Homo sapiens: one gene and its partners. The protein of the gene in region 5 interacts with the protein of the main gene of each other region in a biochemical or structural test. Each region holds a gene or a part of one and is shown on either strand. Other genes may lie near its edges.

Region 1 (4,182 bases), on a different chromosome or scaffold from region 5:
CATTTTGCCATTTGGCAAAATAAAAAATGATAATGTGTTTCTGATTAGGGTGTTTGCTTGTATCAGAGAATTTCTATTTATATCAAAAAGACAAAAAAACTGTCACAAGGTCTGTTCTATTTTTTGTTGTTGCTGTTGTTGTTTTGAGAGGGGGGGTCTCATTCTGTCACCGAGCTGGAGTGCAGTGGTGGAGTCTCAGCTCACTGCAACCTCTGCCTCCTGGCCTCAAGCCATCCTCCCACCTCATCCTCCCAAGTAGCGGGGACTACAGGGGCATGTCACCACGCCCGGCTAATTTTTGGTAGTGACAGGTTTTCACCATGTTGCCCAGGCTGGTCTCGAACTCCTGAGTTCAAGTGATCTGCCCACCTCAGCCTCCCAAAGTGCTGGGATTACAGGTGTGAGCCACTGCACCAGGCCAGGTCTGTTTTTTGTTTGTTTTGGTTTTCTGTTACTGTGGGGATGTTTTTGGTTTATTATTTGCATGCTTTTGTTTGTTTCTGGACTAAAGGAATTCTCTTCAGAAACAATATGTAAGAGTAAAATAATTTTGGTTTCCACTTGCACATCCAGCTTAAAGTTGCTCCTTGTTTGTTAGCTTCCTATTCATGTCCAGCTGATCATGCTCTCTCTGTTCACTCCTGGCTAGTGGGCTAAGATGTAGTAAAAGAGAAGGTCAATAATGATTAAAGCTAATGGTCTCTATTCAGTTCCTTCTATCACTAAACATCTTGGGTGACGACTTGAGAAGGTCAATGATGATTAAAGCTAATGGTCTCTATTCAGTTCCTTCTATCACTAAACATCTTGGGTGAAGACTTGAGAAGGTCAATGATGATTAAAGCTAATGGTCTCTATTCAGTTCCTCCTATCACTAAACATCTGGGGTGAAGACTTGAGAAGGTCAATGATGATTAAAGCTAATGGTCTCTATTCAGTTCCTCCTATCACTAAACATCTGGGGTGAAGACTTGAGAAGGTCAATGATGATTAAAGCTAATGGTCTCTATTCAGTTCCTTCTATGACTAAACATCTTGGGTGCATACTTCTGCAGAATCAGTGCATCTAGCAAAACTACTAGTGATTTAAGCTGATTTTATATTAAATAATGGAGATGGCATGAAGGAAATGTTAGCAATATGGCCATACTATCACTTTCATTATTAACTTAATGAAATAACATTAATTAATAAATTATCCAACTAGTATAATCATGCTCAGAAGTATTTCAGGAGGATTTTAAATAAGAAAGTAAAAAAAAGTTACTTAGAATTAATTTAAATTCTTAAGGTAAAAGCTATTAGCTTTATGATTCTAACAGTCCAAGGAAGAAAAATAGAATAGTAGGTATACCTTAAATTCTAAAAAGTAGAATTTGAAAAATTCTATACAGGCATACGTCAGAGATGTTGCAGAACTGGTTCCAGACCATAACAATAAGACACAATAAAGCAAGTCTCACCAATTTTCTGGTATCCCAGTGCATATAAAAGGTATGTTCACTCTATACTGTAGTCTATTACTTGTATAATAGAATTGTATAAAAACATAAATGTAATACATTAACTTAAACACACTTTATTACTAAAAAAAAATGCTAATGATCATCTAAGCCTTCAGTGAGTTGTAATCTTTTTGCTGGCAGAGGGTCTTGCCTTGATGTCGATGGCTGCTGACTGATCAGGGTGGCAGTTGCTGAAGGCTATACGATGTGGCTGGAGTAATTTCTTAAAGTGACAATGAAGTTTGCCACATCAACTGACTCTTCCCTTCATGAAAGATTTTTCTCTAGTAGGAGATGCTCTTTGATAGCATTTTACCCACATTAGAACCACTTTCAAAATGGGAGTCAGTCCTCTCAACCCCTGCTGCTGCTTTATCAACTACAATTATGTAATATTCTAAATCCTTTGTTGTCATTTCAACAATATTCACAGCGTCTTAACCACTAGTAGATTCCACCTCAAGAAACCACTTTCTTTGCTCATCCATAAAAGAAGCAACTTGTTTATGTTTCATCATGAGATTGCAGCAGTTCAGTCACATCTTCAGGCTCCACTTCTAATTCTAGTTCTCTTGCTAGTTCCACAACATCTGCAGAGACTTCCTTCACTGAAGTCTAGAATGCCTCAAGGTCACCCATGAGGCTTGGAATCAACTTCTTCCAAAATGTTGTTCATGTGATTGAGTCACAAATGTTCTTAGTGACACCTAGAATGGTGAATCCTTTCCAGAAGATTTAAAATTGACTTTGCCCAGATCCATCAGACTAATCACTATCTAGGGCAGCTATAGCCTTACAAATGTATTTCTCAACCTTTGGGTGACCAGTTGCACTGTCCATAAGCAGTAATATTTTGAAAGAAATACTCTTCTCTGGAGTAGTAGGTCTCAGCAGTGGGCTTCAAATATTCAGTGAACCATGCTATAAACAGATGTGCTATCATCCACTCATTGTTGCTCCATTTATGCAGCACAGGCAGAATACATTCAGCATCATTCTTAAGGGCCCTAGGATTTCTGGAATGGTAAATGAGCAGTGGCTTGCACTTAAAAGTCACCAGCTACATTAGGCCCTCACAAGAGAGTCAACCTGTCCTTAGAAGCTTTGAAGCCAGGCAATGACACTTCTCCTCTCTAGAAGAAGTCTTCCATCTCTAGAAAATCTAGAGATGAAAGTCCTAAACGGTATCTTCTTCCAATTCAGTAGAAGGCTATTTGGTCTCCATTAAAACTCTGATGTTTAATGTAGCCACCTTCATCGATGATCTTAGTTAGATCTTCTGGATAACTTGCTGCAGCTTCTACATCAGCACTTGCTGCTTGCCTTGCACTTTTATGGCATGGTGCAGCTTTTTACCCTTAATCCTCATGAAATAACCTCTGCTACCTTCAGATTTTTCTTGTGTAGCTTCCTCACCTCTCTGTCTTCACAGAATTGAAGGGAGTTCAGGCCTTGCTGGGTTAGGCTTTGGCTCAAGTGAATGTTGTGGTTGGTTTGATCTATCCAAACCACTAAAACTTTCCCTGTAACAGCAATAAGGCTGTTTCACTTTCTTATCATTCATCTGTTCATTGGAGTAGCACTTTAATTTCCTTTAAGAACTTTTCCTTTCTGGTCACAACTTGGCTAACTGTGTGGCACAATTTCGATATGCCTTCCTTGCTCAGCTTAATCATTTCTAGCTTTTGATTAAAAGTGAAAAATGTACCTTTCACTTGAACACTTAGAGGCAACTGCAGAGTTATTAATTGGCCTAATTTCAATATTGTTGTCTCTCAGGGAATAGGGAGGCCTGAGGATAGGAAGAGAGATGGGGAATGGCCAGCTGGTGGAATATTCATAACATACACAACACCGATCGATTAAGTTTGCTGTCTTATATTGTTGTGGTTTGTGGCAAACCAAAACAATTACAATAGTAACATCAAAGACCACTGATCATAGATCACCATAGCAGATACAATGAGAATGTTTGAAATGTTGCAATAATTACCAAAATGTGACACAAAGACATGATGACACAAAGACATGAAGTGAGCACATGCTCTTATAAAACTAGTGTGGGCAGACTTGCTTGACTCAGGGTTGACACAAACCTTTGAGAGGTTAAAAAAAAAAAAGCAGTGCCTGGAAAGTATAATAAAATGAGGTATGCCTATACATGTTTGCATCTCAAGCTTTAAGAAAAAAAACATTATGGGATATATCCATCTTTCCATGGAAATAAAAGTACAGATTAGTAGTACTAAATTACCAAAATCAAGAAGCAATTAATAATTATGAGCATTATATTCAGATTTGTACTTACCTATACTAGAGGTATAATCAGTGGCTCCAAAGATCAACTCTGGTGCCCTATAGTACCGAGAACAGATATACGAAACATTGGGTTCTCCTCGGACCAGCTGCTTTGCACTAACAGAAAAAAAATAAAAATAAAAAGCAGAAATTCTTTAAATCTAAACCTTAAAGAACTTAGACTGCTATCCTTTCACAGTATCAAATGATTTTATAAGATTCACATCATTTGAATCATATATGAAAAAGAAAATGTAAACTGTAACTATCTCTAATAAAAGAAATTTACAATTTTATCACCTTGCTCTGCAAAAAAGAATAGCAATTTTTAAAGAAAGCGTTTGTCACCTAAGAAGGCACCAAAAGCAAAAAAGGATAA
Region 2 (4,182 bases), on a different chromosome or scaffold from region 5:
TCCCAGAAAAGACGCTCTTATCAAGCTTATTATTAAGTCTCTCCAGTGTAAGTCACAAATGACTCTATTATTTTGACTGCTTCCTTGACTAGTATACTCATTAATTTTTTCTCAAACATAAAAAATTAAAACCTAGGCCAAAATATCCTTTGAAGTCAAGAAAAAACATACATGAGAGGGAAGACACTGTGATTTCAAAAACCTTAAATGCACTTTTCCCCCTTCAAATTCATACGTAATACATTATTAGTCTTAAAAATGATCAAGGTTTTGTAGCAACAGACAAAAACTGTCAAGGTAAAATATCAAATTGAACACATTAAAACCACATATTTTCACCTCCAAAAGAAGAAACAAATTTATGTAAAATTTCTTATTTTTAATGTGTACATCAAACATCTCTCAGGGCAGTTCTAGTCTGCCTTCCAACTTGAATATTTCTTTTTACATACATCAGATGTTACAAAATCCCCTACACCTCTACATTTGCTGATAGCTATTAAAATGATGAGAGAGTTGGAAAGAATTATAGCCAATTCCTGGTGAGCAGAGCTGCCTTTAAAGAGAAGGTACAGAGGCTCTGTAGAGTTCAGACTTCAGGTCATTAGGAAGGGAAAGGAACATGTGGACGGTCGCCCAGAAGAGTTCTTCCTGGTTAAAGGGACTCAATGTGTTTTCAAAGTACAGATCACTGGAGCATAACTATAGTAACTCAATAAGGTAAAAGGAATTACTAACTAATGTACCAAGAGGTTTAAGTGAGCAAATCAAAATTGGTATAAATTTGGGTGAAAAACTAAAGCAATGGAGGTTCCAGCATTTTAGAGATGGGTGGCAGTAACAATTCTCTGTATTGGAAATCCACTTTCCTAGGGCAATTGGCCAGGAAATTTAAAAACATCTCATTTATATTGTAAATAAATTTACACAGGAAAAACTCTTTTTGCAGCAGCCCAGATGATTGTAAATGAAAGCCCAAAAAGTCAACTGATGACTGGAAATTAGCATGGGTTACCGGTGGTAGATGGCCCTGTTCTGCAACTGCGTCGGTGACACTGCATGACCTCAACCTTGAGGAGGGTTCTCTTTGCTGGAAGGAGAGGAAAAGACAGGAAGCATCAAGAAATATATTCTTAAAAGCAACTTTCATTGGTTTAACAAACATATCACTCAACCATATTCACCGCTCTTCGATATTAGAAGGTAATTAAATGAAACATCTTTTCAGAGCAAGGACAGTCATCCTTGAAAAAGTTATCTTTCACTTTAATTTTCAGTTAAGCAGACTGGAATTTTGATTGGTCCTTAGAATTAGTGGCAAAAGTAAGAGGAGACCAAAACTTTCAGAAAGGAGACTCAACAGGACTCTGCAACACTCTAATGCTGCTTTACAAACAGAAAGAAGCTAGCAGTCTTGTAGTTTGCTCTAAGATGCACCCTCAGGGTAAATTTTAATGTGATGTGAATAGACGGAAGAAATAGTGATATGTGGCTACCCAACATTTATTGATTACTACAATTGAAAAAGAGTCAGTTGCATCCTATATTCAGAGGAGCTCAGACATCATCTTGGCCTACTTCTGAAAGATCTGGTATTTATAATTTTAGCTGCTTTTTTTTTTTTTTTTTAAATATAGAGTCTTGTTCTATTGCTCAGGCTGGAGTGCAGTGGCATGATCTCAGTTCACTGCAACCTCTGCCTCCCAGGTTCCAGTGATTCTCCTGTCTCAGCCTCCTGAGTAGCTGGGACTACAAGCCCCCCCCACCACACTTGGCTAATTTTTTGTATTTTTAGTAGAGATGGGGTTTCACCATATTGGTCAGGCTGGTCTCGACCTCCTGACCTCAGATGATTCACCCACCTCGGCCTCCCAAAGTACTGGGATTACAGGTGTGAGCCTCCATGCTCAGCCAATTTTAGCTTCTAAGTGGACTTCAAGTAGTAAAGACAGGAATGATTAAAAATAGTGAGATCAAGCTAAAAAAAAAGATCTACTGTGTAGTGTCTTAATATTCCTCTAACTTGTTTGTATTAGTCTATGTGGTTAAATGAAGCCTAATTGATATGAATGAAGATTAGCAGCAGGTCACACACAGAAGCCAGAGTCTCCTTATCGGCAAGTTCATCCATAGTATCAGTTTCTAGTATTTACTCATTTTTAATATTTTGTGATAAGTAAATGGTACAAGAAGACTCTGTGGTAGGGATGGGGGACAATTCACATCTTCCCACATTGGTTACTGTGAAAGAATCAGTCTTTAATAAAAGTGTCACTCTGTTGCTCAGGCTGGAGTGCAGTGGCGCAATCGTGGCTCACTGCAACCTCTGCCTCCTGGGTTCAAGAAATTTTTGGGCCTTGGCCTCCTGAGTAACTGGAACTACAGGTGCACCCCACCACACCCGGCTAAGTTTTGCATTTTTAGTAGAGACGGGGTTTCACCATGTTGGCCAGGCTGGTCTTGAACTCCTGACCTCAGGTGATCCGCCTGCTTCAGCCTCTCAAAGTGCTGGGATTATAAGCATTAGCCACCGTGCCCAGCCAAAGCTCATGTTCTTCCCCTTGAATACAGGGTAATCCCAATGAGCAAATATCCGATTTGACTCTCATTTAACAGTGAACACGATGTGAAATAATACAACATTGTATTTGGGTCTTAATGATATTTCACAGATCTAGAATAATTAAATTCAGGAGCTCCTCATTTAAATAATTAGAATTGCTAACTTATGATTATTGCTGAAAAAAATTACAGTGTTTACTTGGTTTACTAAAGGTGTGTTACTGCCATGGATTCTGTGGTACCTCCTTGCTTTTATAGGTTTTAAATACAAGGCTTCATTGTTTATGTTGTTTCTATAACAACAGTTTTATCAGTTCAAATATCCCATATATATGCAATTTCTTTTATCCTGTCCATTTAGTACTACATTTTCATCTTGGCGACACATCTCTTTTTGAAAAAGTCACAGAATTTCAAAGTGAAATCACATTAACTGAATGATAAATGCAACTCATGTAATAGAGGCGTATACTGTCTTTTAAAATAAAAACACCATAACCAAAAAGTAACAATTTTGTGAGTACTTACTTGCTTTTACATTGTATGCAGTGCTATCATTTATGTTTGTTATGGTCATAGTAATGACTATTTTTTTTTAGGATGCCATTTTCAGTGGAGTGACTATCATCATTTACTATTGTACATTTTTAAGTTCAGTTTCTTGAGAAACACTGAGACTTCATTTGCTCTTAATTCTATGCACAAGCAGGGATTTTCTATGGGTTATTTCTGCACAGTTTTGTATTGTCAAACATGGAAGTCTTTGTGACTGATTCCATTGGGCTCAGGCATTGGGCCCATCTGAAGCTTCTAGAAAGTATGTTTCTGATGGTTGAGAGCCCAAGTTAAAATGCTACCTTGATGACAGTGTCACAATTTCACAACATTTCTCAAGGGTTCATACTCTGGGACTTAGGAGACGTCTTCTATCTCCCACTCAAACCTTGTCTTGGATGAGCCACTTAAGCATTGTGCCCTTATCAGCGAAATGAGAATGATAAATCCTGCAGAATATGACTTAAGAGGACTGATTAGGCCTGATGGCTTTTAATTGTTACTGTGAAATACTACCTTTGTGATAAAGGTACTATTTTCATGAGCCTTTTGGCTGGGAAAGGAATTCTACAAGGTTAAAGCTAATAATTACAGACATCATGGAGTTTTACTTCTTTGAGTTCTTTATAAACCAAGAAAGTGTTAGTGGTATAAGGGTGAGCAAAGCTGCCTTCCAAATCAAGAAAGATTCTCACCTGCTTGGGCTAATTTTAGTACAGTCCTGCTTCTCCTAGGGAAGGAGGAACTTTGGAAAATGTCAGAGTTAGCTGGGAGCTGGAAGACCCTTGGTCACTATTTACGTAAGAGATTCTCCTTAAGCAACAAAAAACAATAAAACATTGCTCAGCTTTTCTTTCAAACAAGGCCACTACTTACAATCAAAGAGCTGAACTGTTCCCCATTGGAGTCTGGAGTGATCTGAAGCCTTCTGCTTAGTTCCTCTGACAGCTCCTGAGGGCTGGTCCGAGATCCTGGGGAGGCCGGTGGTGGGGGCAGAGCCAGACCGAGAGAGTCTCCAGCGATATTCACTTCCTCTGAAATGGTCTCCCAAGGCTTTCAGAGAAG
Region 3 (4,831 bases), on a different chromosome or scaffold from region 5:
AAATCTCAAGATCTTGCCATGCTCTGACCCCTGCTTCTCTCTCCAATTTCATTTACAATCCCATTTACTCTTGTTCATTCTGCTTTATCCACAAGACTCTTTGCCCCTCCTTGTCTATATAAACAAGCTCTCCCTCCAAAGCCTGCCCCTGCTTTCTCTTCAGAGTCTGAAATGCCCTTCTCCGTGTCAATAGCTCACTCTCACTTCAGTCAGGTCTCTGAGCACTTATCCCCTCTTCTGAGAGGCTTGCCCTGACCACCTTGTCTAAAATAGCATCCCTTTCCCACCTTACTTTTTAACCTGCTTTGTGGTCTTCGTACTTACCTCTATCTGACTTCTCCACTAGAATGCAGACCATGTGAAGGCAGATTTGCTGACTTCATCACATCAACTATGTGTACCTAGAACAGTCCTTGGATGGTTGACGTGCTTGATAAATAAATATTTGTTGCATGAATGAATGAGTGAATATTTAGAGCTCTATGTCAAATTTCTGGTTCAGATGTTCAGGGATGTTCTCAGTTGGACCTTTTAATAAAAAAAAACAATAAATGACCAAATTCTACTTTAAGTTATTTTAGGGTTCCAACAGTCACCCATAGACTGAACAAACTCCGAAGATTTGGCTTCATGTAAGAATGTCACTGCAAAGAAGCTTCAGTACCCATTGTGATATCATTTGCTAATTTGGAGATTGTGATGCCAAAAGTATAAGCCCCATGCTCAGTCAGCATCTAGGTCCAATAGCTCTCAGAGGAACCATACATCAAAGCAAACTTTCTGCAATGCGGAAAAGAACATCCATGCATTTTTAAAATGAATTTTAAATTTTAAATAATTTTTAAAAGTGGTTTCATCTCTTGTAATGGAAAATATTCAAAATTCTCATGCTGATTCATGAAGTATACTTATATAATTAGACAAAATAAGAACATTGAAAGAAGCAGACTCCTTGTTTCATCGCTTTAAGCAAATAATAAAAATGGACTCGTGCAAGTCACACCACTAATTTAAATACATTTTGTAAAAAGATAGCAAATAAATGAAATAAAAATATTTGCTTTAGTTTTTTTAAACAAAGATTTATTAACTCTGAATTTTTTAGGTTAAGGACCATGCAATATATATCTCCTACACCGAAGTGTCCAAGAAATGTTTTTGGAGTAAATTAATGAACTGCTTTAGAATGTTGCTCAGAAATTAAGCTAGAAATTCAGAGCAATATTCTCAGGGCTTGATTTACACCAAATCCAAGTTCGCAATGTATTAACATGAAGGAATAGGCCATTGCTTTCTGAAAACCTTCCTTTTATAAAAGAAATACTTTAATATTATGAATTCTCTTGGTCTGTGTAAAATATTATTTGCATTATAAAAATTGATTTTTTGGTATAATTGTTCATAGGCAATATTTTCACCAGGATGGGTTCACAAGTGTTAATGGAAGGCGAATTATGTGTGGGACAGTCTTCTAGGGAATATGTGAGGGGTTTTTAAGATGGATAACATTTTGTACCTGCTTTTGAGTTGCAAATGATCTGGACTGTTGGTTAAACATCGCAGACAAGATCAGGTGAAGAACATTACTAGAAGTTCAGTGATTAAGAAATAAAGCCACGTACCCCACGGAGTGAAATTTGAATTCCTTAAATTCCCTCAAATTATTTTATGTTGGATTTTACACCAGGATAGGAATGTCTTTAAAAGTAAGAAATATTTGACATAAGGTAGAAAATTTCAAAGGAGTGTTTGACTTGTTGCTGGATGTGTCACCACATTTCATGTGTCTGAGAAATATAAATTTCTACAGCACATTTTTAGTGCCTTAAACAGACTACAATGATGTAAATGGTTGAACAGTTGAAATTTAGTCTGGAACTGGGACAGATGACTTGCCACATAGAGTGGCTCCCAACATAAAGTGATCTGTGATGGCAGGACTTTCAGCGTGTTTCACTATTAGCATGTGTCATCCAAGCATGCCTTTCAACATCTGTGGAGAAAAGACATGTTACAAATACAAAACACCACCATGATGAATTGGGAATGTCAAAAACCTCTGCCTTGGCTGTGATCCAGTGTTGTTATTGGCAAGTAGATTCATCCTTCTAGGTTGGTTGCTCCATAAGTAATCTTCAAGAAAAGCAAGTCCAACACCCTTTTTTCTCCTTACTGTGAACTTGGTCAAAATTACCAAATGTTTGGTAACCATTTATGGTATCAGGAATGCACCAATAACTCCTTCTGACTCTTTAAGAGCAATCATCTTGTGGAATGCAATTTCCCTTCTTATTATTGTGGGTATTTTTAGGTACCTATGCTTGACCTTTTTTAAAGAGAGTAAGGATCTGTGATTTAAACTAGGATAGAAGCTGTTCCAGAGATAACAAAAAGCTGTTGCTTTCTATATTCCAACAGGAACTAGGTAAAACGATAAATGTGATAACTCAAAATAATGTGTATGTTTATCTTCCAGGCTTTCTAATAGTTAATTGGTTAAATAAAACATTATTTACAGAAATAGAAGAGCCACTCCTCAACTGTTCAAACACTGCAAAGTAAACTAATGCAAGTGCAGTGACCTCTTCATCCAGCCACAAAATCATATATATTTTTAATTCTCCAAGGAGTTTGAGATAGTAAAGTTGGATATCATGTAGCTAAACAAAGGCTTTTACCTTTTCTCTTGGAAAATAGTTAAAATGAATAGAAATCTGATAATTAATCTGGGAAATTTAACCCTGCTCTACTTACCTAATGCCCCCCCAAAAGATGATCTTTTTTTTCTTCATTGATTTTATACCTTAAAAAGAAATTACTGAATTGCAGATATACAACTAGTATCTACAGACAGAAATGAAGGTCAGTTTTAGAAGAAACCAGTGTCAAATGAAAACACAGATTTCTACATGGTCACATTCATATCACACACTCTTGACCCAAGGTGAGAAAGTAGGTCATTCCTTATTTCTTATTTATTCCCTGGCACAATCAGACCACACTACAAGTTTCTTTTACCAGTTGCCAAAATGAAATCATGACACCCTTCAGAGCTACTGTCGTTACATGCAACTCAAGACAACGAGCAGCATCATAACCATTGTCAACAGGCAAACTCCAACAATGTCTGGGTTTGGATTTGGTTTTATGTTGAGAGAAGCAGATTTCCTCTGATTTTAATAATCCATAAGAAACAGAAATCATAATATATTGACTCCATATTACCTAAAAAGAGTCAAAAGAAGCAGAAGTTCTCCCCCGATTCATCCTCTTGTTCCACAGACATTTTGAAAATAAAAGAAGACAAAATAGAAAGGAAAGGGTGTGAGAAAGAACACAGAAATGACTTGAACGATTTCAAATCCTTATTAAGCATCACTGAGGTTGCATTTTACCCATTAGACTGACTGAATTTAGTTCTCACTGCTCAGACCTTGCAAAGAAACTGGACGTACATGGTTTTGCCTTCCAGGGTTGATCTAGAACTGTAAGGGTGCATGTGAATGTGGGTATGCATGTGTGTGTGCTTTAAGTCCATTTTATAAACACTGACACAAGACAATTCTCATCATTGGTAATAGTCTTTGGAGTCCAATCATGCAGAAAAACAGGCAGGTGCAAGTTAGGTCTCATTGCAAGATGGACATGGCAAGGTGAACAGATAATCCTACATAAGGATTGGGAGATTTGTGTCCATTAGAATATACTGGCCATTGGTCCCACATAAGTAAAGTTACATATACAAGATTCTATATATAAACAGAGGCCCCTCACTTCAGTTTGGCTGACCAAAGAAACAGGTCAAAGTGAGCCATTTTCAGATAGTTAAAGGACTAAGTACCAAAAGAAATAACAAAATCTTATCCTCTAATCACAAAGAAAATAGCTAAAATAACTATTTACATTGCAACTTTTTTGTTGTTTTTACAGAGAGGAGTTTCCTTGCTTGGCTTAATGATATCTGTGGAAAATGTTGAACTCTTATAATTAAAATGTGTGTGGGGGATTGTGAGTGGGGAGTTGGGTTCCTCTTTGGATGCAAAGTGGCTGAGATCAAAAATTTCTAGAGCAATTTTACTCCTCTTTCTGAGCTGTAGAAGAATACATTTTTCAGCAAAGCTGGCTAATAACATGCCTTACAGAGCATAATGCACTTAAGATGTGGCTTTTCATATGTTAAGAGATTCAAATCGAAATAGATTTTGTATAATTTAGGTTTTGCAATGAATATTTACAATTTTAAAACAAATCAAGTTTGCTTATTTTTTTTTCCTTGACAGGACATAAAAGGTTTTACATATTTTTATCTATTTTTTACTAGTTCCATTTACTAAGGCCAACTTTCAGTTTTACCAGTCAGCTGCTATCAGTGTCTTTAGATAATATTTTTCTGATAACAGATTGAAAAAACTATCGAGCTTCTTAACCCTCAATTAAATAGCTTACTCCAATTGGTGGGAACTGGCCAGGCTCTGGTCCAACTGTTGGGTACATTCCTACAAAACTCAGTCATCAGATTCTTGAAGATGAAAGGTTATTATCAGTTTTTATTCCACAAGAAGAAATTCCGTTGTAAGGCTAGTGTATTCCTATTTAAAATTGAACACGCTGACCCACAAAACACATATAAAAATAGTAAAGACATATTAATAGTAAAGTGGTGGCGGTTTTGCCAAACTCTTGCAGCAGTTTAATTTTCCCTGCACATGAGTACACAGCCATCCTTCCTACAAAATACTGCAAACTATTTTATTAAGGATCACTGCAAACCAACTGCCCCAAAGGAAGCCTAACAGAAGGTTAGGCTCCTCAGAGTGCCAACTTCATGTTC
Region 4 (4,182 bases), on a different chromosome or scaffold from region 5:
TGCTGTTCCTGCCTTTCAAACAGGTGGTACAAACACCCAGCAGAGATCCATGAAGAGAGTGCATTAACAGGAAGCAATAGGGCAAAGTTCATAGAGATGAGCTTTAGAGAAAAGCGGGACTTAAATAGAGCCTGATGTTTCTTGGGGCAGGCTGGGGTGCTGTACTATGGGCATCTTGGCAGGATGATTCTCCAGTGGAGGGAGTGTACCGTGCAATCCAGACCATTTAGCATGTCTGCCCTTGACATGCCTACTGACGGCCAATAACACCCCCTAATCAACGTGACAACACAACAAAAAGCCGCCCCCCTATACATTTCCAAATGCCTCTGTAGCAGGGAGGTAAAATCACCCCCACTGAGTACCACGAGATAAAGTAGGCACAATGCGGCCAGGTGCAATGGCTCACGCCTGTAATCCCAGCACTTTGGGAGGCCGAGGCAGGTGGATCACCTGAGGTCAGGAGTTTGAGACCAGCCTGGACAACATGGCGAAATCCTGTCTCTACTAAAAATACAAAAATTAGCCAGGCATGGTAGCACACACCTGTAATCCCAGCCACTCAGGAGGCTGAGGCAGAATTGCTTGAACCCAGGAGGCAAGGTTGCAGTGAGCCTCCAAGCAAAACTCTGTCTCAAAAAAAAAGTAAGTAAGTAGGCAAAATGGGCAGAAAGCATAAGAGATAAAGTGGGAGTGGAACTGGCAGACAGAAACAGGGCCATCCTTTAATGACTCCGTCACCCACAAGATCAAGTCCAAAGTCCTTACCAAATAATGCCCTTCAGGATTTGGCCCTGCCTACCCCCAGCTGTCTCAACTCCCACCTTCTTACTAAGGCACCCTACACTCCAGCCTTCCCAAGTAATTTGTGGTTTTCCTGACCTGATGCACTGTGTTCACGGTCTGTGCCTTTACATGCACACTTCGCTTTGCCTAGAAGGCATTTCTCAAGGCAAACTCCTACTCACACATCAACACCTAGCTCAGAAGTCTGGGAAGCCAAAGAAAGACAGCCCCAAGTCACTCAGCTCTTCTCTTCCTCTCAGCACTTCACAAACTCCTGGGTAACACTGGTATCTTCTCTGTATTATTCCCCAATTCCATCCCATTATTTGGATGAAGAGTTCAATAAACATTTTCTGAGTAAATAACTCTACATGAAAGGTTTTAAAGGCTAAAAAGTGATACAAGCAAAAGCAGACAACAGATATTTCTTGTTACTGAAATAATCTATTTTCTCAACTCTGATCTTTGGTGGAGCACTACTTAGGAACCAGAAAAACTGGGGTTGCTTCATCACTTCCTAGCTGTGTGTCATTGGGCAAGTTAACTAACCTCTGTGTGCCTCAAGTTTCTTCACTTGTGGGGTAAAAAACAAACAGAAGTTACCACTTTTGCTGTACAGTTATATGGCTTAGCATTAATGTATGTAAAATACAAAACAAGAGTGCTGAAAAAGTGGTAGTTCTACTAGTCTGCTATAATCACAATAACCTTAACAAGACAGGAGGACATTGTACCATCAGGAATGTGATCACAATGAAATTTTAGTTGAAACCATCCCCCTCTTTTTTCTTTTATTCATTCAGCTTTCCCAAGTTGAACATCCCCGCTTTAAAAAAAAAAAAAAAGAGGCCAGGCACAGTGGTTCACACTGTAATCCTAGCACTTTGGGAGGCTGAAGCAGGGGGATCACCTGAGGTCAGGAGTTTGAGACCAGCCTGGCCAACATGGCAATACCCCGTCTCTACTAAAAATAAAAAAATTAGCCGGGTGTGGTGGCACACACCTGTAATCCTAGCTACTCGGGAGGCTGAGGCAAGAGAATCACTTGAACCCAGGAGGCGGAGGTTGCAGTGAGCCGAGATTGTGCAACTGCACTCCAGCCTGGGCGACAGAACAAGACTCTGTCTCAAAAAAAAAAAGAGCTGAAAGTCAACAAATATAATGGCTTGTCAGCTGCATTCTGTTTCCCTCCTATAGTACTCAATACCAATCCCTTAATGAGTACCATCTCCCTTGGCTCCTTTGATAACGTGCACTCCCAGTTCTTTGGTCTCTCTGGCCACATTTCCTCTGTCCTCTTCCATAACTTGACCTTTATTGACACAGTAAAGGCAGGCACTCCTTTGGCTTAGTTCTCAGATGTCTTATCCACTCTTAAGGCTTCAATTAATATCTCTATGAAGATGACCCCATGAGCTCTCTTGTCGCATTCAGAAACAGCATTTCAAACTCAATTAAACCAAAATAGACACTTGCTATCTTAGTCTAAGATGACCAAGCATACTAAGAGTGTTTCAATCTCTCCTCCTCTCCCTCCTCCCCGTCTACACTGTTCCCTTATACATCTGACCAGTCATCAGTTTCCTCTTCTTTGCCAGAGTTACCTGGTTGGTCCTCTGTTCTACTTCAGTGGTTCTTAATGTTTCCAGGATAATGGACTCATTTGAAAATCTATCAAATGCTATGTATTTTTTAACCAAAAAGATAAATATAGAAAACATATAATTACAATTTCTTTTTTTTTTTTTTTTGAGACCCAGTCTTGCTCTGTCACCCAGGCTGGAGTACAGTGGCGCGATCTTGGCTCACTGCAAGCTCTGCCTCCCGGGTTCACACCATTCTCCTGCCTCAGCCTCCCCAGCAGCTGAGACTACAGGCGCACACCGCCACGGCCGGCTACTTTTTTTTTTTGTATTTTTAGTAGAGATAGGGTTTCACCATGTTAGCCAGGATGGTCTCGATCTCCTAACCTCGTGATCCGCCCACCTGGGCCTCCCAAAGTGCTGGGATTATAGGCGTGAGCCACCGCGCCTGGCCATGATTGCAATTTCACCTAACCAATGACCCAGATAAGAATCTGTGCTCATCCACTCAAGATTTTAACTACCATTTACACAAATTTTCATCTCCAGCTCCTGCTCCCCTCTTACAAATTTTAAGATGGTTTCTGGATATAGCCTGAATGGCCTACAGGCATTACAAACTTAAGTTCAAACCAGAACTATTTCCCCCTGACAAATCTGCTCTAACAGTATTCCTTTACTTGGATAATGGCACCACCATCTCCCAGGCTCCCAACCTAGAGGCCTCAGAATGAACAACCGCCCATAGCCAATCAACCAGCAAGCCTTGTTCTATCTCAGAAATCCCTCCAAATCCAAATCCCACCTCTCTTGGTCTCTTACCCTTTAAGGTCTCATAATCCTTTGATTCCACTCAGACTTGCCATGATTAAAAGTCTTTTTACCACTCTTCCCACAAGGGTCCCTGTTACTATTTCTGTCAATACAAAACTCCTCACCTCCATCTGCTACCTTCCGCTGCCACTTTATTACTGCACCTCTAGGTGGTTAGGCTTTCCTAATTTATTCCTCCACTCCGGTTCTTCTTCCTTCATTCCCACTAGTGTTGATTTGTCTTCCCAAAAAATTTCAAAATTGACCATGTATGACTGCCTCTTTCAAAAAAAGGCCGGGCACGGTGACTAAAGCCTGTAATCACAGCACTTTGGGAGGCTGAAGTCAGGGGGACCACCTGAGGTCAGGAGTTTGAGACCATCTTGGCCAACATGGCAAAACGCTGTCTCTACAAAAATACAAAAAAAAAATTAGCTGAGCATGGTGGCACGCGCCTGTAGTCCCAGCTACTCAGGAGGCTGAGGCAGGAGAATCGCTTGAACCTAGGAGGCAGAGGTTGCAGTGAGCCGAGGTCATGCCACTGCACTACAGCCTAGGCAACAAGAGTGAGACTCCACCTCAAAAAAAAAAATAAACAAATAAATAAATAAATAAGATGCTTCCTCCACTGAACAAATATACAGTCAAACTTAGTTTTGCCTTTGGAGTCCTCTACAGTTTGCCACCTAAGTACATTTCCAAGATTAGATTCCACAGCTCAAGCTGTCACTTGTTCCTATTATCTGCATATCAAAATCACACCCACTCTTAAAGGCCCAACTCAAATCCCACTCTTCATCTTTACATCCTCTACATAATCATTAGGAAAGGACTCTAAACAAAATAGTCACAATTCCTAATGAACTGATAAGGAAACAGAAGGGGGTAAATCTAAAAAATGGCTAGAAATCCATAAATCCTTTTGGAAGCATTTTTTAAAAGATCACCATTCAAATATTAGTGAATATTTCAACGAGCCCTCCATAAATCCAGCACTGTT
Region 5 (4,182 bases):
CCTCCCAGGGAGAAAGCCAGGGACCTGGGGACATGAGACTCCTGGAGCCAGAGAGATGGTCCCCTTGGGGTGACCTACCTTCCCCGTGTCTTCGGGCCCCGGCTGCAGTGTCACAGAACATGGAAGGTTTGGAGGGATCTGTCAAGAAGAGGACAGAACGAGCCACCTGTCACATCCACCACTGTCCTGTCTCATGTATTGCAGCCCAGACACTCCCATACACCCATCAGACCAAGGGCCCCAGGGGACAGGCCATGTCTATCCCATCAGACCATGCCAAGCCATGCCCCATCTAAAACTCTTTAGATAAAGAGCTTTCTTTATCTAAAGGGTTTGGCCCAGCCCAGTCCTCGCAGCAATGGTTTAAATAGATCTTTCTATGATGTCTACTGTGGTTGGCAGAATAATGTTCCCCAAAGATGTCCACACCCTAATCGCCCAAACCTGGGACCTTAATGACAAAAGTGACTTTGCAGATCCAATTAAGGCCTTGAGATGGGGACCGTATCCTGGATGATTTTGGTGGGCCTAGTATAATCACAAGAGTCCTTAGAAGTGGAAGCAGGGGGCAGAAATGTCTGAGCCACAGTGATGGGATGTACAAAAGACTCAACGGCCACTGCTGGCTTTGACAATGGAGGAAGGCACTGTGAGCCAAGGAAAGCAATGCTGGAAAAGGTGGACGCTCCCCGAGGGCCTCCAGAGGAGCCAGCCCTGCCACGCCTCCATGGTAGCCCACTGAGACCTGTTTTGGGACTTCTGACCTCCAGAGCTGTAAGCTCATACATCTGTGTTGTTTTAATTGCTGCCGAGTTTGTGGCAATCTGTTTCAGCAGCCATAGGGAGCTAACATGTCTACGTAGAAAAGGTGACTCCATGACCCTCTCCACTCTCTCAGCCTCCAAGAAAGGGAGAGACCACACTGAATCTCAGAATCAGAGAGCCTAAGAAACTTGAGATTTTGAAATCCAGCATCTTAAAGTCTCTGATTTGAAAGGTGGTGGGGCAGACAGATCACCTACTTGCCATCCCTCTCTTGCGAGCTGGGTTGCTGCCGGGCAAGTGGGGAGCTGATCTGAGCGGGAAACCCCTTGCAGTGATGCAGGGTCCAGAAAGGGCTCTTTCTTTCTCTGAAGCCCCTTAGCACCCCCTTTCTCCCACCAATGACCTGGCCTCAGAAGGGTCTGAGGAGTAGCCCAAAGGTACAGGTGACAAACCCCAGCAGGGGCTGGAGAAGAGACACTTACCAGGTAACACAGGTGACAGTGCCCCAGGTCCCAGCATACACTGGGAAACTGGGTGGCAGGGAGCAGCTGACCCTCACCGCCCTCTTATGCCCACCCCAGAGGGCTTCCTAGAGGTGGCATTTCTGGAATGGGGCCCCAGGGATGGCAGTTCCTGACCTCAAAGGTGAAAGGGTAAGCGTGCTCGCCCAGCTTCTTGATGAGGCGTTCCTGCAGCCGCGTCAGGGGCTTCTTGTCCTCGGGGGCCGGTGGGAACGACTGTACGTTGGCCACAAACAGGTCCTTGCGAAAGGTCAGGCCCAGGACATCCAGGTCCTCCCGGCCATAGCGGAAGGCGCAGGTCAGCGTCACATAGACTGTGGGGAGCGAGGAGCACTGAGGAGGGGCCTGGGAGAGCAGCAAGCGAGCCCCCCAGAGTGCCGGCAGCAGCCCTGGGACGGGCCCCACTGGAGGCCCCAAGCCTGTCCCAAGCTCTGTGGGGATGGCTGCACTGTCTCCACCAGGAGGGCTGGTAGTGAGTACCGGAAGGATGCCATGGCCTGGCCCCTGGGAGGAGGAGGGGGCTGCCTGCTGAGCCAGCTCTGTCCTTCCCCCTCCCACCTCTCCCCAGGGCATATGTGGAGGGGTATGGAAACGGTCTGACAGGCTTGGCGGGGGCTGGAGTAGTCTGGCAGGCCTGGGGTGGGGGTAGGGGACCTGGGGAAGGAGCAGGGAGTTGTGGGGGCAGGGCAAGTGCTGGGTGGTATCTGGACGGCAAGCGTCTTGTCACAGCTCAGTCTGCACTCTTGTCTTCCTGCGCATTGATACTGCCCCGGTATCAATGTTCTGTTCTGTTAAAGAAGAACCTACTCCTACCCTGCTGGCATCCCCAGCCTTGCCACAGTCATGACATATTGATGTGAAAGTGCTCAGGGCATGGGGAAACCTTCTCCCAAAGTAAGCTTGGGGCAGGGCCGTCCCAGGCTGGAGGAGGCAACGGCATCTGTAGAGGTATTTGTTGGGGCTTTCAGGGGAACCAGTGGGGATGGGCAGGGAGTTCCTATGCTAGAGGTCCGGGGGGAAGAGGAGGCGGCCCTTGACAGGCTGGGGATGGGGGCCACAGCCTACCTCTCCGCTCTTTGAGATACTCAGGATCCACCAGGACCACACCATCTGGGGAAAGGACAGAGAGTAAGCGGCCTCTCCCAACCTGGTCTCCCAAACCTCTGTGCCCCAAACACCAGCCCAAGCCCAGATCCAACCATCTGTTCATCTAAAATCATCCTGAGAAAAATGGAAAGGCGGGCACCTAGAGGGTGGCACTGCCCACCTCCACCACGCTCCACCCTTCCCCCATCCCAGGCCAGTATAACAGACCCAGCTGGTGACTTTAGGCAGGTTAGAGACCATTTCTGTTTCTTCATCTGCTAGTAAGAATAATAACCTAGGTCCGAAACTCCTAGAACCAGGTATTCTTTGGAATTTAGAAATTGCGAAGTATAGAGAGGCAAAATGGGCCGGGCGTGGTGGGTCATGCACATAATCCCAACACTTTGGGAGGCTGAGGTGGGCGGATCACTTGAGGCCAAGAGTTCAAGACCAGCCTGGCCAACATGGTGAAACATCAACTCTACTATAAATACAAAAATAGCTGGGCATGGTGGCGGGCCCCTGTAGTTCCAGCTACTCGGGAGACTGAAGCAAGAGAATCACCTGAACCTGGGAGGCAGAGGCTGCAGTGAGCTGAGATCATCCCACTGCACTCCAGCCTGGGCAACAGAGCGAGACTCTGTCTCAAAATAAAATAAAATAAAATAAAATAGGCAAAATGGTACATGTTCCATATATTCTGTAATGACCTCTGCAAGATCTGTACCTTATTATTAAAGCCATTAATACCTCTGTAGGAAAACACAAATATTCTCACCAAGAGGCTAAATAAGGCATAAATAGCCTCGCATCAGTTTGGGTCAGGTTTGCCAATAAATGAATTCTGCATTAAACTTGGAAGCAATGTTAGGTTTTCAGAGCTTGGGCTTGGCACATGTGGATTGGGGGTTGTGATCTGCAGTGCCTCCCTCATGGGGCTCCCGTGACGACTGAATGGGTACATGTGTGAATGTGCATATGTGTACAGCGCTTAGACAGTGCCAAGCACTCGAGAGCACTCTGCAGATTGTGGAAGGCGCCTCAGTGCCCTGAGGCCTGCCCTTGGGGGCAGAGTCCAGCTGGACACAAAGGACATCTCTGCTCAGCACCCCAGGAGGCCAGAAACACTGGCTCAGGGTCACCCCCTTGGCTGACATCCCCTGTCTATCTTTGGCCAAACCTTTCTTTCCTCTCTCTCTCCCCCTACCCTCTAACCCATTGTCACTTCACTGCTGGTGGAAGAGGAGGGCCAGGATGGATCATCAATGTCCTGTTGGGCAGGCCAGTGGGCTTGGACTTGTGTGCAGGTTTGGTGGGGAACCGGTAAGCATAGGGAGGGTGTGATCAGATCAAGCCAAATGGCAGCGTCACTATGGGAGAAGAATCTCTCACAGTGAGTCCCTGATCAGCTCTGCACAGTGCCCCAGAGTTCTCGGGGATACCAGGGCTCACAAGGGGCCTGGCACAAAGGGGGTGCTCTGTGAACACCTGCTGAACAGCTCTCAGGGTGCCTGCGTGTGTTGGGGGCTGGTTTCCTGCCCCTGTCCTCTCCCAGTCTCTGGGCCACCTCTGCTGCTGTCCTTAGTAGGCCAATGGACATGGACAACCCTGGCCTCAGAGGGCCCACTGGAAATGACAACATGAAGCAGCCACAGATGAACACCAGGATGCCTGCTCCCGGCCTCTGAGAGGCCACCTCAGGGAGAAGATGCCAATGGCAAAGGGACACTGAGCTTCAGAAGACACCAAACAGCATCCCAGGCAGGGCTGGAGGGGAGAATTGGGGGTGTTCTGCTCTAGGCCATGAAGG
Region 6 (4,182 bases), on a different chromosome or scaffold from region 5:
AGGTGTCGGACAGGCTGGTTCTTTCTGGAGGCTCAGGGGAGAACCCATTTCCTTACCTTTTCCAGCTTCTAGAGGCCACCTGTGTTCCATGGTTCATAGTCCCCTTTCCATCTTCAAAGCCAGCAGGTAGCATCTTCTCATTTCTCTCGACCTCCTACCTCCCTCTTATTAAGATCCTTGTGATTATAGTGGGACCCACCTGGATAATCAAGGCTAAGGATTAGCAACCTTAATTCCATCTGTTACCTTAATTCCCCTTCTGCCATGTAAGGTAACCTATTCACAAGTTCTGGGGATTAGTACCCGGACTTCTTTAGGGGCTGTTATTCTGTCTGCCACACACGAAGATGAGAAAGTTTGTAAGTTTATTCTTCCCCTTTCTTTTTTTTTTTTTTTTTTTTTTTGAGATGGAGTTTCACTCTTGTTGCCCAGGCTGGAGTGCAATGGCGCAATCTCGGCTCACTGCAACCTCTGCCTCCCAGCTTCAAGCGATTCTCCTGCCTCAGCCTCCTGAGTAGCTGGGATTACAGGCATGCGCCACCACGCCTGGCTAATTTTGTATTTTTAGTAGAGACAGGGTTTCTCTGTGTTGTCCAGGCTGGTCTCAAACTCTTGACCTCAGGTGATCTGCCTGCCTAAGCCTCCCAAAGTGCTGGGATTACAGGCATGAACCACCCCGCCTGGCCTGTTCCCCTTTCTACAGTTTTAAATATCATCCTTTTATTTTGGAGGAACTAAAAAGATTGAAGATTCCCCACCCAGAGGGTCACCACACAAAAAGTACCTGATGGTGTAAGATGATCATATGAAGAATAAGACTCCCAAGTTCTTTAAGGTTTGTGTTAGTCTCCAGAACTGTCCATTTCCCTCATAGGTTTCACAGAGAATTTACCTTGACCAGATCCCACATTGTAAAAGGAAATGTGTGTGATGGATTCATAAAGCATATAACATGACGTGTTCAGACGTCACCTCAGAACTTCCATTGTTTTCTTTTAAACAAACTTTTTATTATTATTATTTTTTAAATAGTTGCAGAGTCTCACTATGTTGCGCAGGCTGGTCTAAAACCATCCTCCCGCCTTGGCCTCTGAAAGTGTTGGGTTGAGTCACTGTGCCAGGCCTAATTAAACTTTTTCTTTCTTTTTTTTTTTTTTTTTTTTTTTTGAGATGGAGTCTCACTGTGTTGCCCAGGCTGGAATGCAGTGACGCAATCTTGGTTCACTGCAACCTCTGCCTGCTGGGTTCAAGTGATTCTTCTGCCTCAGCCTCCCAAGTAGCTGGGATTACAGGCACCTGCCACCACACCCGGCTGATTTTTGTGTTTTTAGTAGAAATGGGGTTTCACCATATTGGCCAGGCTGGTCTTAAACTCCTGACCTCAAGTGATCCACCTGCCTTGGCCTCCCAAAGTGCTGGGATTACAGGCGTGAGCCACCACGCCCGGCCCTAAATAAACTTTTTAAACCTTAATTTTTTTTCCCTTTTTTTTTTTTTTTTTTTTTTTGAGACAGTCTTGTTCTGTCACCCAGGCTGGAGTGTGGTGGCACAGTCTTAGCTCCCTGCAGCTTCCACCTCCTGGGTTCATGCGATTCTCCCTCAGCTTTCTGAGTAGGGGTTACTACAGGCACATGCTATCATGTCTGGCTAATTTTTGTATTTTTAGTAAAGATGGGGTTTCCCCATGTTGGCCAGGCTGGTCTTGAACTCCTGACCTCAATTGATCTGCCTGCTTCAGCCTCTCAAAGTGCTAGGATTACAGGCCTGAGCCACCAAGCCCAGCCTAAACCTTAATATTTGATTTTCAGAATAATGAGAAACATTTCTTGTGGTGTTAACTTTGTGTGTGCGCTGTTTTCAACAGTGCTTCCTCTGTCCCTGTCCCTGTCCCTGCTGCGTAAGTTGGTAACGTTTTGTGAATCAGCCTAGGACAGGTACCACTGTTTTTAGAATTCTTTCTTTTTTTTTTTTTTTGTATTTTTAATAGAGATGGGGTTTCACCATGTTAGCTAGGATGGTCTCGATCTCCTGACCTCGTGATCTGCCCGCCTCAGCCTCCCAAAGTGCTGGGATTACAGGTGTGAGCCACCGCGCCCGGCTTTAGAATTCTTTCTGGAGGGAAATGCATTGTAATTTCCTGGCTACCTTTTAGTATTAAAAAACTTTTGGAACATAGCTCATTGATAATATGCTATAGAAAGAGAGTCTTAGAGTTTCTCTGTCCAATTAAAGACAATTTCAAAAACCAACAAAAAGGCTTTCTCAGTTCCAGTACTCTTTTGTATTCATTAGATAGGGACAGTTTGGTTCAGACTACACCTGTGTGGGATATATCTTTACTGGTTTGTTTATTTATTTAATTTATTTATTTTTATTTATTTATTTTTGAGACGGAGTCTTGCTCTGTTGCCCAGGCTAGAGTGCAGTGGCGCAATCTCGGCTCACTGCCAGCTCTGCCTCCTGGGTTCACACCATCTCCTGCCTCAGCCTCCTGAGTAGCTGGGACTACAGGCACCCGCCACCACACCCGGCTAAATTTTTGTATTTTTAGTAGAGACGGCGTTTCACCATGTTAGCCAGGATGGTCTCGATCTCCTGACCTCGTGATCCATCCGCCTCCCAAAGTGCTGGGATTACAGGCGTGAGCCACCGCGCCCGGCCTTATTTTTTTTTTTTTGTGAGACAGAGTTTCACTCTTGTTGCCCAGGCTAGAGTGCAATGGGGCGATCTCGGCTCACCGCAACCTCCGCCTCCCAGATTCAAGCAATTCTCCTGCCTCAGCCTCCCAAGTAGCTGGGATTACAGGCATGCGTCACCACGCCTGGCTAATTTTGTATTTTTACTGGAGACAGGGTTTCTCCATGTTGGTCAGGCTGGTCTCGAACTCCCGACCTCAGGTGATCCCCCTGCCTAGGCCTCCCAAAGTGCTGGGATTACAGGTGTGAGCCACTGCACCTGGCCTATTGGTTTCTTTTTTTAAAAAAAAAAAAACTGTTTATGGCACTGTGGAGTCCCACCAGACAAACCATTAACTTAAGAAAATACTATTCTGCTCAGGAAAAAGAAAAAAATCGTAAAAATTAAATTTTGCATACATTTTCTTTATAACATGCATACTGTGTGTACTTTTTTTTTTTTTTTTTTTTGAGACAGAGTCTCGCTCTGTTGTCCAGCCTGGAGTCCAGTGGCACGATCTTGGCTTACTGCACCCTCTGCCTCCCGGGTTCAAGCGATTCTCGTGCCTCAGCCTCCTGAGTAGCTGGGACAACAGGCGTGTGCTACCACGCTCAGCTAATTGTTTTGTATTTTTAGTAGAGATGGGGTTTCATCATGTTGGCCAGGCTGGTCTCGAACTCCTGACCTCAAATGATCTGCCCGCCTCAGCCTCCCAAAGTGCCGGGATTACAGGTGTGAGCCATTGCGCCTGGCTTGTGTGTACTGTTGCCAGTATATATTTCTGTGTAATAATGTTCAGGGTTGTAAACAGAAAACCACATATAATGCACTTTAAGGGAGTATTTGCGGGATTTTCCAGAGAGTATGTTCATCCTGTTGCTCTGTAATGGTCATCATTTTGGGGCTAATGACTGCAGTTGCCGTGATTCAATTATGAACTTCCTTTTTAAGCATAATTTCTTTTTTTTGTTGTTGAGACAGAGTTTTACTCTGTTTCCCAGGCTGAAGTGCAGTGGCGTGATCTTAGCTCACTGCAACTTCTGCCTCCTGGGTTCAAGTGATTCTCCTGTCTCAGCTTCCCAAGTAGCTGGGATTACAGGCATGTGCCACCACACCCGGCTGATTTTTGTATTTTTAGTAGAGACGAGGTTTCACCATGTTGGCCAGGCTGATCTCAAACTCCTGACCTCAGGTGATTTGCCCACTTCAGCCTCCCAAAGTGCTGGGATTACAGGTATGAGCCACCGTGCCTGGCCTTTAAGCATAATTTCTATATAAACATTTAAAATGAAAGTTGCTGGAGTCTATCATGTTCATTATAGCAAATGCATGTCTTATTTTTGTTCCTTTCAAGAAGTTAGCTTCAATTAGGGAAGTTGTCAACAGAGAATTTTAAAATAATTTTTAGGTGAGTTTTCAAATGAAAAGGAAGAGACGTCTGCAAATGTCCTTTACTTATTCAGCTTCTGAAATACCTTACTTTTTATTTGCCTTTGATGTAATTTT
Region 7 (4,182 bases), on a different chromosome or scaffold from region 5:
GAGCTTGCAGTGAGCCGAGATTGCGCCATTGCACTCTAGCCTGGGTGACAGAGCAAGACTCCGCCTCAAAAAAAAAAAAAAAAAGAGATCGTTAAACATAAGCTGCCAGGCAAAAACACTGAGTGATTTTACACAAAAGTGGGGCAAAGAAGCGTTATACTTCGAGGGAATTGGTCTGGCCTAAGGAAAGCACAGTCATACTCTGCCTCCAGAAGACACTTAGTCTTGCCTTCCACAGAGAGTTGTGCCACCCAGGAGAGAACTCATATGTAGATCCTAATGTTCAGAAGATTAAAAAAGAATGAGTACTGCACTCAGTGTAAATGCTCAGGTATATGACAGACACTGAAGGAGTAGAGTGTGTCACTAATTATTGAGAAAGAAAACAACAAATTCCTCTGATATGCAAAGGGGAGAGGTGGTCCGAAATTGTTTGTCTGCCCACATTTTCCAACAAAAAGGTTCAAGTCATGATGCAAGATCCAAAGTATACAAAAAGTATGGCTGGGTTCACATCAACTGTTTTCAGAAAAATTCTTCTTCTTTTTTTCTTTTTTTTTAAGAGAGAGGGTCTTGCTCTATGGCCCAGGCTGGAGTGAAGGGGTGTGATCATAGCTCACTGTAACCTCAAACTCCTGGGCTCACGCAATTCTCCCACCTCAGCCTCCTGAGCAGCTTGCACTATAGGCATACACCACCACACCCAGTTAATTTTTTTAGAGATAGGTGCTCGCCATTTTGCTCAGGCTGGTCTCAAACTTCTGGGCTCAAGTGATCCTCCCACCTCAGCCTCCCCAAGTGCTGGAATTACAAGTGTGAGCCACCATGCCTAGCAATTTTCAGAAACATTCTTCAGCATCAATAGTACCATCTATAGACTACAAATTTCATTAATCCTATTAAATAAATAAAAATCACAATGTTCCCTTTTGTAGAACCAATAAAACACAAAACATGCTACTCAAAATTGGATTTGAGGTGTAATGGGGAAGTTTACTGTCTTCTTTTAATTCCAGTTTAACAAATCTTACCTCCCCACAGTGTTTCTTGGCCAGTTCTTCTAGGCGAGATTTTAACAAATTGACACTTTCATTTGATAGACCTTTGGCATTTTTTAACTCTATTTCAGGAACTCTGGAAAAGGCAAAAAAAAAAAAAAAAAAAAGAGTTACTCCAGAAAGTATAGCCTGTTTGCATTAATATTTGCTAAACTGAAAGCACTCTGGGCCCAAGGCCCTTAATCTCAAAGGGACTTCAACCATATCCCTGCAACTCCAGTTGACAGTGGAGTCACCTGCGTCCTACAGGGAAGAAGTGGGCTGGCCAAAGCCTTCTGTCTGGGCTGTTAGACTTACTGGGCTTGACCCCTGTATCTAATTTCAGCTTTACAATCTGATTAAAATTTCCCAACATCAATTACTATTTATTTCCTACGATTTGACCTGGATCCCTAACTCTGAGTTCTTCACCTTAAAAAAAAAAAAAAATCATTCCAGTTCTGCAGCTGACTCTAGCCCAGTAACTTAACCATGTGCTCCTTTGTATGGTAATTCTCTACCCTAGCTTGCAGCCAATGAGAATTAACCTAGCTCTGACAGCTCACTGGCAAGGCCAAGCGCTCTGCATTCAGGTGTGCTCTAGCATAAAGCAGAACAAGAATAAATAGATGAGTGGAGCCCTGGTGATCCCTCTAGTATTCCCACAACACACTGCTGCATCCCAATCACTCATTCTGATCGAAACCAGGTGGAAATGCTCACTTCTTGTGTATAAATACATCTAGTCATGCACACTCTCTGCACCTCTGCCTAGAGCTCATCTAAGTCAACACTTTCAACTCAAGGACATTACACAACCAGCCCTCGGGTTTCATTTTATTCCCAACCAATAAATATCCAATAACAACTCTCTCAGATTAAATAGGAGTTATTTAATTTTACTGAAGAGATGATGACTCATCACTTTTTACCAAGCATTTCTGAGTAATTCATGGCATTTAACCAGTGAAGTCTTGAGTATGCACTTATCTATGCGTTCTCTCAATGCTTCAGTATGAAAGGGTGCTATGATCATTATCTATTTCTATAGATAGAAATCTGAGAGAAAGTAGTCTATATGAGGGAAAGAACAGAAAAACAAACCATACAGTCCTGACTCTATGTATGGAATCCTGGGTTAGATTCCTCCCCAAAGAGCTGGGATGGGGCTGAAATTTCTAGAATTCCTCCCCAAAGGTCTGGGATGGGGCTGAAATTTCCAGAATTCCAGAATCTAACCCGGGAGTCTCTCTCTCACAGTGGCACCCAGGACTATTCTGCAGAAAAGCAATGTTTTCCTGTACCACATTCAAAAGGATAAGAATATTACCCCAAATTAAGATTTTTGTTATAATTTAAAAAATAAGTAATCATAATATAGCAATATTAACAGAATGGAGAAAAAATCATCAATGATGCTAATTAAACTTCAAAAAAAATTCTAATGTTCTCTTTATTTCCTTGCTATATAATTCATAGTTTATGTAGCTGATATTATAATGTTTGCTTTTTAACTTTTATAAGCATTTCCATGTTAAAAGCAATCATCCCATAATATTTTTATCAAGTGGACACATTAAGATTTACCTGAATAGTTATCTAGTGCCATGATTCTTAACCAGGGGTGATTTTGGCCCCAGGGGATATCTGCCAACATCTGGAGACTTTTTTTGGTTGCCACAACCTGGGGAGAAATGTACTCCCGACATCTAGCAGACAGAGGTCAGGGATGCTACTAAATATCCCACAATGCCCAGGAAGGACCCCACAACAAAGAGTTATCTGCCCACATGTCAGTAGTGCCAAGGTGGAGAAACCTCACTCTAGTATTTGACATTTAGATTGCTTCCAATATCTTTGCTTTCACAAATAATGCTATAATTAATATTTTAGCACTTATATAACATTATAGCACTTATACCTTTTTCTTTATTTTGATTTTTCAAGAATAAACACTTTGAATTCTTGAGGCTATGGTATAATAAAAAAATATATATTTGATATTTGACCCCTGTTCCTGGCACAGAGATCCTATCACCCTTGGAATTTCCTGAGCAACAGGGGTGAGAGGAGCATCTTATGTTTTTCATAACAAACCCCTTCCAACCATACCGGAGTTAGTACTCATGAGGGAACTCTGGTCAGTACCTGGATAGCTTCAGGATCAGGACTGGTCACCAGAAAAACCAAGCCTTGATTACAGGGTGAGAAATTTCAGCCCCATCCCAGATCTTTAGGGAGGAGTAGGGGGCTGAAGATCAAGTTCAATCACCAGTGGCCAAAGATTTAATTAATCAATCATCTCTACATAATGAAACCTCCATAAAAACCCCTAAACGACAGGGTTCAGGGAGATTCTTGGTTGAAGAACACAGGGAGGTGCTGGGAGGGTGCCAGGCCTGGAGAGGGTATGGGAGCTCTGTGCCTCTTCCCACACACCTTACCCTTCATAATACTTCCATGTGGCTATTCCAGAGCCATATCCTTTACAACAAACTGGTAAATGTAACTCACAGAAACTGAGTTCTGTGATGCATTCTAGCAATTATCGCAACTTAGGAGGGGGTGGTGGAAACCCCTAAATTTATAGCCAGTTATAAATACTGGCTATAAATGGTCAGAAGTACTGGGACTTGCCACTAGCATCAGAAATGGAGGCAATCTTGTGGAACTGGGTCCTTAATCTGTGGGGTCTTTGCTAACTACAGATAGTGTCAGAATTGAACTGAACTACTGGACACCCACATGGTATCAGAAAAGGCATCATGTATTTGGTGTCAGGAAAAAAAAACAACCTAGAGAGGCACTCTTTTAATTTCCTTTCATAAATTTTTAATTATCTTTTTCATTAATGTTTTATAATTAACGTTTCGTTAATTAATATTTTTATAGTATGTATAGTATACCTACTATAATACTCTCAGGACAGTTTTGGGGGCCAAGAATGGTTACTGACTTCAAGGAGCTCAATTTTGACTTATCTGTCTTTTCATATCCTCCCTATCACTTCTTAGGATAATAAATTCCATAAATTTACCACCCACTGTGTAAAGCAGAGTTTCCTTTTACTTGTCCCTTTCCATCTCAAAAACCTTCACTGGTTCCCCATACAATAATTTCAAACTACTTAACGCCATCCAGGCCA

What was found.
Region 1: of the proteins of ARRB1 (region 5) and GSK3B, one has a biochemical effect on the other in vitro, tested with the Homo sapiens proteins (one study listed by BioGRID).
Region 2: the proteins of ARRB1 (region 5) and NEDD4L form a complex in vitro, tested with the Homo sapiens proteins (one study listed by BioGRID).
Region 3: the proteins of ARRB1 (region 5) and MAPK10 interact in a test that uses a peptide from one of them, tested with the Homo sapiens proteins (one study listed by BioGRID and IntAct).
Region 4: of the proteins of ARRB1 (region 5) and MAPK1, one has a biochemical effect on the other in vitro, tested with the Homo sapiens proteins (one study listed by BioGRID).
Region 6: the proteins of ARRB1 (region 5) and CYTH1 form a complex in vitro, tested with the Homo sapiens proteins (one study listed by BioGRID).
Region 7: the proteins of ARRB1 (region 5) and EIF2AK4 form a complex in vitro, tested with the Homo sapiens proteins (one study listed by BioGRID).

What each region holds. Positions count from the first base shown.
Region 1 is NC_000003.12:119,908,891-119,913,072, forward strand, and holds part of GSK3B (glycogen synthase kinase-3 beta), read right to left. Parts: intron 3,921-4,182; coding exon 3,814-3,920; intron 1-3,813. UniProt on the Homo sapiens protein: Constitutively active protein kinase that acts as a negative regulator in the hormonal control of glucose homeostasis, Wnt signaling and regulation of transcription factors and microtubules, by phosphorylating and inactivating glycogen synthase (GYS1 or GYS2), EIF2B, CTNNB1/beta-catenin, APC, AXIN1, DPYSL2/CRMP2, JUN, NFATC1/NFATC, MAPT/TAU and MACF1.
Region 2 is NC_000018.10:58,330,726-58,334,907, reverse strand, and holds part of NEDD4L (E3 ubiquitin-protein ligase NEDD4-like), read right to left. Parts: intron 4,171-4,182; coding exon 3,994-4,170; intron 1,091-3,993; coding exon 1,016-1,090; intron 1-1,015. UniProt on the Homo sapiens protein: E3 ubiquitin-protein ligase that mediates the polyubiquitination of lysine and cysteine residues on target proteins and is thereby implicated in the regulation of various signaling pathways including autophagy, innate immunity or DNA repair.
Region 3 is NC_000004.12:86,009,339-86,014,169, forward strand, and holds the end of MAPK10 (mitogen-activated protein kinase 10), read right to left. Parts: 3' UTR 1,067-4,831; downstream 1-1,066. UniProt on the Homo sapiens protein: Serine/threonine-protein kinase involved in various processes such as neuronal proliferation, differentiation, migration and programmed cell death.
Region 4 is NC_000022.11:21,860,748-21,864,929, forward strand, and holds part of MAPK1 (mitogen-activated protein kinase 1), read right to left. Parts: intron 1-4,182. UniProt on the Homo sapiens protein: Serine/threonine kinase which acts as an essential component of the MAP kinase signal transduction pathway. MAPK1/ERK2 and MAPK3/ERK1 are the 2 MAPKs which play an important role in the MAPK/ERK cascade.
Region 5 is NC_000011.10:75,281,884-75,286,065, forward strand, and holds part of ARRB1 (beta-arrestin-1), read right to left. Parts: intron 2,397-4,182; coding exon 2,352-2,396; intron 1,601-2,351; coding exon 1,404-1,600; intron 139-1,403; coding exon 79-138; intron 1-78. UniProt on the Homo sapiens protein: Functions in regulating agonist-mediated G-protein coupled receptor (GPCR) signaling by mediating both receptor desensitization and resensitization processes.
Region 6 is NC_000017.11:78,775,623-78,779,804, reverse strand, and holds part of CYTH1 (cytohesin-1), read left to right. Parts: intron 1-4,182. UniProt on the Homo sapiens protein: Promotes guanine-nucleotide exchange on ARF1, ARF5 and ARF6. Promotes the activation of ARF factors through replacement of GDP with GTP.
Region 7 is NC_000015.10:39,940,335-39,944,516, reverse strand, and holds part of EIF2AK4 (eIF-2-alpha kinase GCN2), read right to left. Parts: intron 1,135-4,182; coding exon 1,032-1,134; intron 1-1,031. UniProt on the Homo sapiens protein: Metabolic-stress sensing protein kinase that phosphorylates the alpha subunit of eukaryotic translation initiation factor 2 (EIF2S1/eIF-2-alpha) in response to low amino acid availability.